2 linked regions of the Homo sapiens genome follow. The protein of the gene in region 1 purifies or fractionates together with the protein of each later gene. This does not show direct contact. Each region holds a gene or a part of one and is shown in the gene's direction. Other genes may lie near its edges.

The links.
Region 2: the proteins of MTURN (region 1) and BTBD9 purify together in Homo sapiens (affinity purification with mass spectrometry; one large-scale study listed by BioGRID and IntAct). This does not show direct contact.

Annotation. Positions count from the first base shown.
Region 1 is NC_000007.14:30,137,012-30,142,176, forward strand, and holds part of MTURN (maturin), read left to right. Parts: intron 1-5,165. UniProt on the Homo sapiens protein: Promotes megakaryocyte differentiation by enhancing ERK and JNK signaling as well as up-regulating RUNX1 and FLI1 expression. Represses NF-kappa-B transcriptional activity by inhibiting phosphorylation of RELA at 'Ser-536'.
Region 2 is NC_000006.12:38,629,082-38,634,246, reverse strand, and holds part of BTBD9 (BTB/POZ domain-containing protein 9), read left to right. Parts: intron 1-5,165.

The DNA of each region.
Region 1 (5,165 bases):
AATGCCTGTAAGCCCATCTTAACTGTAGGTAAAGTAAGTAAATAAGTGTTCTTTTTGGAAGGAGTGGGAGATCATTAAAAAGGGATTCACTCCATTGCAAAAGTGTGAGAAAGCCCCCAGGATACAGTGGAAAGGGCACCAGAATCCAGCTGACTGTAAAATGTTAGGGTTTGGCTAGGGTCCCTTCCAGCTCTGGGCTTCCTTCATCTGCCAGCGCCCTTTCTCCCTCCTGACCGTGTGAAACAGGGCAAGAATGGCTCATGGTTCTGGATTTCACTGGGGAGAAGCCCACACAGCCTTCCTGCTGGGACCGCCCAGGCCATACCCAAAGAAATGACTCCAAAGACAGTAAGTGGGCCAGGAAGACAAAAGGCTGTTCTCTTGCCATGAATATGTGTATCCAACCATCGTTCAGAAGTAAGAAGTATTATATTATTTGTATCAGGCCTTTCTCTTGAGGCCACCCAGATTTTAAATATTTTCCCATCTGCATGAGAAAAATGCTTGAAAGTGTCATGTAAACTGACAATTTAAATAGAATAGATAGAAAGATAGAGGATGGGGGTGGGCAGATGATTCCTTGGGTAGAATGGAACTTTCTCCAAGTTCTGGAGGCTCTAATGGACAAGATGCCAACCTCGGGAGTTTTCCTAGCCGGACCTCTTGAATCTGTCCCAGGCCAGGTTTGTCAAGCTACTGTTTGCCTCTAATAAGTGTCCTGCCTTAGTTCTTTTCTTTTTCCCTGGAAAATGTATTAAGCATTAGACAAAAGTGTGAGATCAATGGAATTTCTATTAGTTGAAGGACTTAGCAATAAGAATGTCTACATGAGCATTTCTCAATTTACAAAAGTATTTCCACATCATTCATTCATTCATTCAACAAACATTTATTGAGGGTTTACTTTGTGCCAGGCCAGTGCTATCTAGAATACAAATAGGGTCTCTGCCTTCATGTTCCTGGGGCAATTTTTACTTGTCTAGGAAGCAGTGTGGTGTGGTGGTTAAGCACACAGGCTGTAGATCAGACTACTTGGGTTTGCACCTCAGCTCCCCGTATTTGTGTGCCTTGGGAAAGTTATTTAACCCCTCTATGCCATACTTTTTTTTTCTTTTTCTTTTTTTGAGACAGTCTTGCTCTGTCGCCCAGGCTGGAGTGTAGTGGCGTAATCTTGGCTCACTGCACCCTCTGCCTCCCGGGTTCAAGTGATTCTTGTGCGTCAGCCTCTCCAGTAGCTGGGATTAAAGGCGTGCACCCCACGCCCAGCTAATTTTTCTATTTTTCGTAGAGACAGGGTTTTGTTACGTTACTTAGGCTGGTCTCGAACTCCTGGGCTCAAGTGATCCTCCCACCTTGGCCTCCCAAAGTGCTGGGATGATAGGCGTGAGCCACTGCACCTGGCCTCTATGCCATAGTTTCTACATCTGTAAAATCGGGATGATAATATTAGTACCTCCTGAGCAGAGTTGTTTGAGAAAGGTATCTAAAGTAGGGGCAGCTTAGATAGTCTAAGCCACTGTCATTTTTCATCGTGTCTCCTAATTTGTCTCCTTGCTTATAACCTCCACCTCACTCTTACTGTAGTACTGAAGTGGAGGTACTAAATAGATCCAAAATGACTGCTTGGGGAGACTGACTCTAAGCCACTGTCTACCCAGCAGTCATTTTGGATCTATTTAAAATATAAGCCAGATCATGTCACCACTATCCCCCACCTCAGCTGAATTGACTTCCCATCTTTTATAATAAAACCTAAGCCCTTACCCTGGCCCCAAGCCCCCACATGATCTACCTTCCTGCCACACAGACCCTGCTGGTCCTCAGATGTGCCAAGCGCATTCCTGCCTCAAGGCCTTGGCACTTGCGTTCTGTCTGCCTAGAACCCTCTTGCCCCAGATCTTTCCACGGCTGGCTCCTCGATGCTCCTGAGGCCCAAGAGAAGCCTTCCTGACCACATGTTCTTAGATCTCACCCTCTTTTATTCTTCCCATAGCACTCGTTAGACTTGGCATTCTCTTTTTGGTTTTCTGCCACTGCCACTAGACTCTAAGCTTCATGAGAGCAGAGGCCTTGTCTGTGTTATCACTGTGTTCTGGCATTTGGAGCAGCATCCATACATGATGGGTGCTCAGTACATATCTATAAGGATGAATAAATTATAGTCTAGTGTAAAAGACATGTCAAATGTCAAGAATTCAGTTTCAAAGAATAATAATAATAGCCATCACTTATGTTCAGTTTACTATGTAGCAGACGCTGCTCTCGGCACTTTACATATGCCAACTCATTTAACTTTAGTACTCTCACATAATTATATAATCTCTATAATTATCTCTGTTTTACAGAGGAAGAAACTGAGGCATGGCAAACTTTACTAACTTTTCCACAGTTAATAAGTGGTAGAGCAACTTCAACTATAGCCCTGTATTTAATGCATGGCATCACAGGAGTGACAACATGGGACCCAATCTAGACTGGGTTCAGGGAGTGCTTCTTATTGGGCCTCACAGAAATTCATTGAGGTAGATATTATTATTCCCACTTTATAGGCAAAGAAACTGAGGCTCAGGGAGTTTAAGAGATTCATCCAGGACTGTACCACTAAGAAGTGACAGAGCAAGGACTTGAGACCAGAGGCCTGTCCTCTCCACCATGCAGAACAGCCCACAGGTGGGGTCAGGCCAGTAGTTCCAGGGGCCCATGTTTAGTAAACAGGACGCCTGTTTATTTTTCCTCCATTTTGGGTCCCTTGCACACTCTTTCTCTATCTCGCTCCACAGGCCATCCCATCCATGCCGACCCTTTCCAAACTGTCCCTCTACCTGGGACCCCTCTCTGTGGGCCCCATGATCAGGGCCTGGGGTGAAACAAAGCTGCTAGTGCCCTGTGTGTGGAGGAAATTCAAGGGCATGGCCACCCTGCCTGGCTCTACAGGTTTGATAAGGGAGGGCTCCTGGCCCTGGTCAGAGGGGTCCAAGGAGTCCTTTCTGCCAACTTGGAAGGTCCTTCGGGGCTTGGTAGGCTTGGAATGGGGTGTCAGCAGCCACTTGGATGCCAGATAAACAGAGGGGCACTCCTAGGCATGGAGCACCAGCTGCGTTCCTTCCTTGTCTTAGGCCACGAGAAATGAGGTCTCTGAACAAAGAGCACTGCCCAGCCCATCTGGGGGCCTGGATCCTGATGATTGTGGGAGAGAGGGAGGGATTCATTTCCCAGATTGCCCAGCCTTTCCTGTCAGCCCAAAGACACGTTGGACTCTAAAATTTTGTATAGTTTAATCCCTCCTCAGCACAAAAACAAAGGTAGTAATCATGATATTATTAAAGAAAAAGGCTTTATTTATGGCAGGACTGTGATTTAATTTTACATGTGTTTGTAGAGGGGTGTGTGTGTGTGTGTGTGTGTATCCCCATTTGTGGTCTGAACACATCTTTATTATTAACTATGTGATCAAATAACAGCCTTCTTATTTGGATAAAGAAAATAGAACTTATTTAAATGAGATTGAGTCCCGCTTATGTGCTGGTATAGTGGAGAGAAAGTACTTTCTTGTTGATTTAAACTCTACCCTGTTTCCTCCTCTGTCAGATAGGGACAGTCATGCCTGTATTACATGATTAGTGTGGGGATGAAATGAAGAGCTGTGCATGTGATGTGCTCAGTAGACATAAGGCCATTCCACATTGGCTGTGCCTGTTCATATAGAGAGGTTATTTCTGGGAAAATGAGAGGTCCTTTGTATATTCTTTGAGTGGTAGTCATGAGGAGAGTAGTTACGTCAATACAAGCTCAAGTGGATGGGCATAATCGCTTATTGGGCCCCTGCTAAATGAGAGTCAGTCTACAGGTTGTCCCCTGAAATCTTTAGATTCCCCCTGTAAATATAATTATTTTCTGTGACTTACAAATGAATACACGAGGCTCCGGTTAAACATTGCGCACAGAGTGTAGTTGAAAGGGTGCACACTCCTCCGTTGACATTCTGGCTCTGCCCTTGTTCCCTGTGTGACCACAGGCAAGTTACTTAACCTCCCTGAGCCTCAATTTCCTCACTGGTAAAATGGGTCAGTGGCTGACACACAGATCGGGCTAGTCCTAGGTATGGCCAGCTGTGCTCTTCCCACCATGTGCAGTGGCTCACACCTGTAATCCCAGCACTTTGGGAGGCCGAGGCGGGCGGATCACCTGAGGTCAGGAGTTCGACACCAGCCTGGCCAGCCTGGTGAAACCCCGTCTCTACTAAAACCACAAAAATTAGCTGGGCGTGGTGGTGGGCGCCTGTAATCCCAGCTACTTGGGAGGCTAAGTCAGGAGAATCAATTGATCCCGGGAGGCAGAGGTTGCAGCGAGCCAAGATCGCACCACTGCATTCCAGCCTGGGCGACAGAGCAAGACTCCGTCTCAAAAAAAAAAAAAAAAAAAGAGAAAAAAAGAAATATGTTGGGAGGCGTGTGGTGGACTGTGGCTTTTATCTTTTTCTGCCATCTGTTTCCAGGACAAGAATCAGGGTTTTGTTTTGGTATTTTATTTTGGAAACAGGGTCTCACTCTTGCTCACGCTGGAGTACAATGGTGTGATCAGAGCTCACCGTAACCTCAAATTCCTGGGCTGAAGCAGCCTGCTGCTTCATCCTGGCAAGTAGCCAGGACTACAGGTGCGCACCACCACACCCAGCTATTTTTCTTATTTTTTGTGGAGACTGGAGTCTTGCTCTGTTGACCAGGTGGTCTTGAACTCCTGGTCTCAAGCAGCTCTTCCGCCTTGGCCTCCCACAATGTTGGAATTACAGGTGTGAGCCACCAGGCCTGGCCAGGGATCCATTTTGGATTAAGACACACCAATTCAAAATGGACTCCCTCGGTACCGAGTGGCAGAAAACCCCCACTTCAGTACTCCAGTAAGAGTGAGTCCCAGAGCAAGGGCCCCAGAGGGAGGAGACACAGGAGTGTGTTCTTACCTCCCCTGCCACCCCCACCCTGCTTAAGCACCAGGAAGTCCAGCTGCATACCCACCAGGATTTAGAATAGTAGGGGTGCACACATTGTGCTCCCCCAAAAATGTCTGTAGGGTTGGACTACTTTAATGACTGGAGACCACTTTTTGATAAACTGGATATTCCGATCTACATTGTACAAAACAGGAAGGTGCTCATTTTCCTATTTGCA
Region 2 (5,165 bases), on another chromosome or scaffold:
AAGGGAGTTCCACTATATAAGGAAATAAAACAGTAGCTGTGCAAAATTATAAACACATTTGTAAAGGGAGTGAAATTGGAGTTAAATTGGAGCTTCATGACTGACAGCTTAGCTACTCACTATTCTGCCTAGGTGCTTGTTCTCTCTCATTTATCTCCCAGCTAACATTCATTAAGCATTTATAGTGTGCCAGAAATCGTGTGAAGTGCTGGGCATAGAGAAAACAATAATTGCCTTGTGCACCTAATTCTGGTTTTACTTGGGGAAAGGAATGTGCACACATGTATGCATATTGTCAGGGTGAAGGAGCCTGACTTTTATAATCTTAAGATTATATTGAAGGAAGAGACATTGAGGACTTGAAGTTAAATTCATTCAGCCTTATGTATTCAAGGGGCCATGACGAGTATAGGGATGGGGCCATGACGCGTATAGAGATGTATATTTTTTTTTTAGCAATCAAATTTGTAATTTGATAGAGGAGAAAGAACATATTTGGAGTAATAAAAAGAATACGATAAGTACTGTATAAATATTGATTACAGACTAGGTACTCTGGCTTCTTAAGCAGCTAAGTGTTCAGTTTTAACAGCAACTCATAAGCTATTGTAATGTTTCAGAAATTATAACATGTCATAAGTCCACATTAACCTCCTGGGCTGCCTTTGCATCTGAATATGAGACACAAAAATATTCTGGCAGTCTGTGTCCCTATTTTCTTGATTTGGGAAGTATATGCATAATGCATATAAGCAAAAGAGTAATTAAAAACAAGGTGCTATTTATCTAATGGCTACATTATGCAAGGCCCTTTCTATATACTGTTTCATCCTTGTAATGACAACCTTGTCAATTTGACATTATCTCCATTTTACTAATAAGGTAACTGAGTTCCAGAATGGGAACTGTTTGTCTGTAGCTTGTGGCCAGTGAGAAGTGGGACTGGGCTCCAGTACAGACCCAGGTGTGGACTCTGCAGCCTGTGTTCTTTTTACTTCATGCCAATTCCTTATGTCACCATGGGTCTTCAGCATGTTAATATCTTGATGTAGAAATGCAGTCTCATTTCTACTGTTTTAGGAAAAGTTACTGGAGGAAGTTAGAATTTTAGTAACTGCCTAAATGTTTGAAGACAATTTGATAATATAGTTAGGGATGGAAGGGAATGGGGGCTGGATAATTAATGGCCCCAGTGCTGATTCTCCTATGAAGACGTGCTGTATTTGACCCCAGTTATTTTTTAGTTGACTCACAGGAGATCTTACATGAATATTCAGATTTCCCACTTTTTATTTATTTTTATTTTTTTCAAATAGAGACAGGGTCTGGCTCTCTTGCCCAGACTAGAGTATAGTGGTGTGATCCTAGCTCACTATAACCTCGACCTCCTGGGCTCAAGCAATTCTCCCTTCTCAGGCTTCTGAGTAGCTGGGATGACAGGTGCATGCCACCATGCCTGGCTAATTTATTTTTGTTTCTATGTAGACAGGGTCTCACTGTTTGCCTAGGCTGTTCTTGAACTCCTGGGCTCAAGGGATCCTCCAACTTTGGCCTCCCAGAGTACTGGGATTACAGGTGTGAGTCACTGCACCCAGCCCCACTTCTTTATGTATAGGTGCCAAGTTTTCTAGAGGAGGAACTGTACTTTTTCAAGTACAGTTCAAGTTTACATTTTTCAAGTTTACATTTTAGTAAAGTCAACTCTTTTAAAAAATCCCTTAAAACTTCACCCCAAACAATGTTTACCTGAGATTTCCCAGCTAATCTCCCTTCTCTGCACATTACTTATTTCCTCCACTTAGGTGTTTATTTTTAAACCTATTTACAAAATTAATACATTCTATTTATGGTTCAGTGTAGTTATTCTGACTTGCAAGGTTTTCATTCCTTGCAGTTTGACTAAGTCACTCTTTGGTCCTATTTTATACATTCCTGGAAATATAGACTGTAACTATCTTTGTAAATGATAGTTAATTTCAGTTAATTTTACAAGAAATATTTCTATAAATTTATAATTCTGCAAATGGAATAACTGTTAAATCAAATTCTATGTTATCTATTGCTGTGTAACAAATTATCCCAAAATTTAGCTGCTTAAGACAACAAACTTTTTTTTTTGAGATGGAGTTTTGCTCTTGTTGCCCAGGCTGGAGTGCAGTGGCACGATCTCGGCTCACAGCAACCTCCGCCCCCTGGGTTCAAGCCATTCTCCTGCCTCAGCCTCTGGAGTAGCTGGGATTACAGGCATGCGCCACCACGCCAGGCTAATTTTGTATTTTTAGTAGAGACGGGGTTTCTCCATGTAGGTCAGGCTGGTCTCAAACTCCAGACCTCAGATGATCTGCCCGCCTTAGCCTCCCAAAGTGCTGGGATTACAGGCGTGAGCCACCGTGCCCAGCCAACAACAAACATTTTTTAATCTTATGATTTCTGTGGGTCAGGAATTCAGAACCAGCGTAGCTGGGTAGTTCTGGCTGAGTCACTGATGAGTTGCAATCAAGCTTTTGACCATTGCTATAGCAGTCATCTGAAGGCTTGACTGGGGCTGGGGCTGGGGCTGGAGGATCTGCTTCCGAGATGGTACACTCACATGGCTGTTGACAGGAGGCCTCAGTTCCTTGCTGGCTGTTGGTAGGGGACCTCAGAAATTTCATAGGGTTGCATGAGTATCCTTATAACATGTCAGCTAGCTTCATCCAGAGCAAGTGATGCAAGAGAGAGCAAGGAGGAAACCATGTGCCTTTTATGTCCTGTTTTGAATATAACACTGTTACTCCTTCTATATTTGATTTGTTATAACGTGGCACTAAGTCTAGCCCATACTCAGGGAGGAAGGCAGTTAGGTTCCACCTTTTTTGAGGGGAGAGTCAAATAATTTGTGGGCATATTTCCAAACAACCATCAATCCTTTTTCCCGTGAAGCCATTTCTTCAGTTGATGTTGATTGTCTCTGTTTTAGCACATGCAATAATTTTTCTGACTTGTATATTCATGGTATTTTCTGGAAATGCTCTGAAGAAAAGGTAGTGGTTTTTAAATTTTAAGGAAAGTTTTCACAAATTACAGATTTGTTGTGGATTCCTTGAAGTTTTATATCCATCACATTAGCTTTAGTACTAATGCAGCCAGAATGTTTTCATTTTTATCCTATTCTATTCTATACATTTATTCTTATACAATTGTATTCATATTTAATGGTTTTAAATTAATCTAAAATAGAACCAAACATTTCTAGGTAAGGTAATTCACTTTCCAAACTTTTAGAAGAAAAATGCTTCCTCAACCACTGTCTGAAGGCACGTGTTTCAATTTCCATATGGTACAGTGACATTGGGCTGCATGGCTTAGATGAGTCTGCTAATTTATAATCCAGTCCTTTGGGTACTTTACTAACTTTTATCCTCAAGTAAGGTCCTAAGTAGATCCATTTTATTTCAAGTCTCATTCTTTAGAAGGTGTATGTAGGACATAATTGGCTTAGGCAACCTTTTCAGAACATATTGCAGTTAGGTTTATATTTTGGCACTTCATGTCAGATATTAACTTTCACTATCCTGACCCCTAACAAGTATAAATTACCTGCTTAACTCTTTTATTCTAGTTTTTAATTTTAATCTAATTTTAGACATACAGGAAAATTGCTGGAATAGTACAAAGAATTCTTTTATAACCTTCACCACATCTCCCAAATGTTAACATTTTACCACATTTGTTTTATCCTTCTCTCTCTCCTTTTGCCCCACTGAACTGTTGAAGAGAAAGTTGCAGATATAATACCCAATCCTTCAATGTGCATTTCCTAAAAACAAGGATATTCTCTTATTAACTGTTTTACAATCATTAAATACTATCGTTGTAGCTAACCTATAGGCTTTATTCATATTTCATCAATTATCCCAATTGACTTATCAATGAATACCCTTTAGAGCAACAAAAACAATAAAAATCCAACACACAAGAACAAAGTGAAACAAAACAAAAAACCAGCCATGTGGTGCATTCAGTTTTTCTTTTTTTCTTTTGGTCTCCTTTTTTTTTTTTTTTTTGAGACGGAATTTCACTCTTGTTGCCCAGGAGTGCGGTGGCACCATCTCGGCTCACTGCAACCTCTGTCTTCCGGGAGCAATTCTCCTGCCTCAGCCTCCCAAGTAGCTGGGATTACAGGCATGCACCACCATGCCTGGCTAATTTTGTATTTTTAGTAGAGACGGGGTTTTCACCATGTTGGCCAGGCTGGTCTCAAACTCTTGACCTCAGGTGATCCGCCCACCTTGGCCTCCCAAAGTGTTGGTATTACAGGCATGAGCCACCACGCCTGGCCTGGTCTCCTTTAATCTAGAATAGTGCCTCAATCTTGTCTTTATAACACTGACATTATATAAGGGTTTAGGCCAGTTTTGTTTTTATTTATTTATTTCTTTTTTGAGATGGAGTTTCATTCTTATTGCCCAGGCTGGAGTGCAATGGTGTGATTTCAGCTCACTGTAACCTCCACCTCCTGGGTTCAAGCGATTCTCCTGCCTCAGCCTCCCTAGTAGCTGGGATTACAGGCACATGCCATCACACCCAGCTAATTTTTGTATTTTTAGTAGAGACAGGGTTTCACCACATTGGCCAGGCTGGTCTAGAACTCTTGACCTCGTGATCCTCCTGCCTCGGCCTCCCAAAGTGCTGGGATTACAGGCATGAGCCACCGTGCCCGGCCTATTTACTTTTTTAATAGTATGTCTCTCACTTGAGGTTTATCTGGTTATGATTAGATCCACATTATGCAGTTTTGGCGGTAATATAGATGTGATGTATTTTTCTCAGTGCTTCATTTGAAGATGCTAATGTTGATTTGTTCTATTATTGGTGATGTTAATTTTGATCACTTAGTTAAGATGGATTCTGCCTGGTTTCTCCACTGTAAAGTTTCTGCCTTTCCTTTGTAAATGGTATCTTCTGGGAGATACTTTGAGAGGATGTAAATATCCTGTTACTCCTCAAACTTTCACCGACTAGTTTTAGGCTTCATTGATGACTATTTGCTGAATCCATTATTGTCATGATTGTTGCCAAATGAAGATTTCCTAATTCCATCACTCCTTTTACATTTATTAGTTGACTTGCCCCCATTAATTAACTAGTTAATTAATATCTCAGTGATCTCATGGATTCTTATG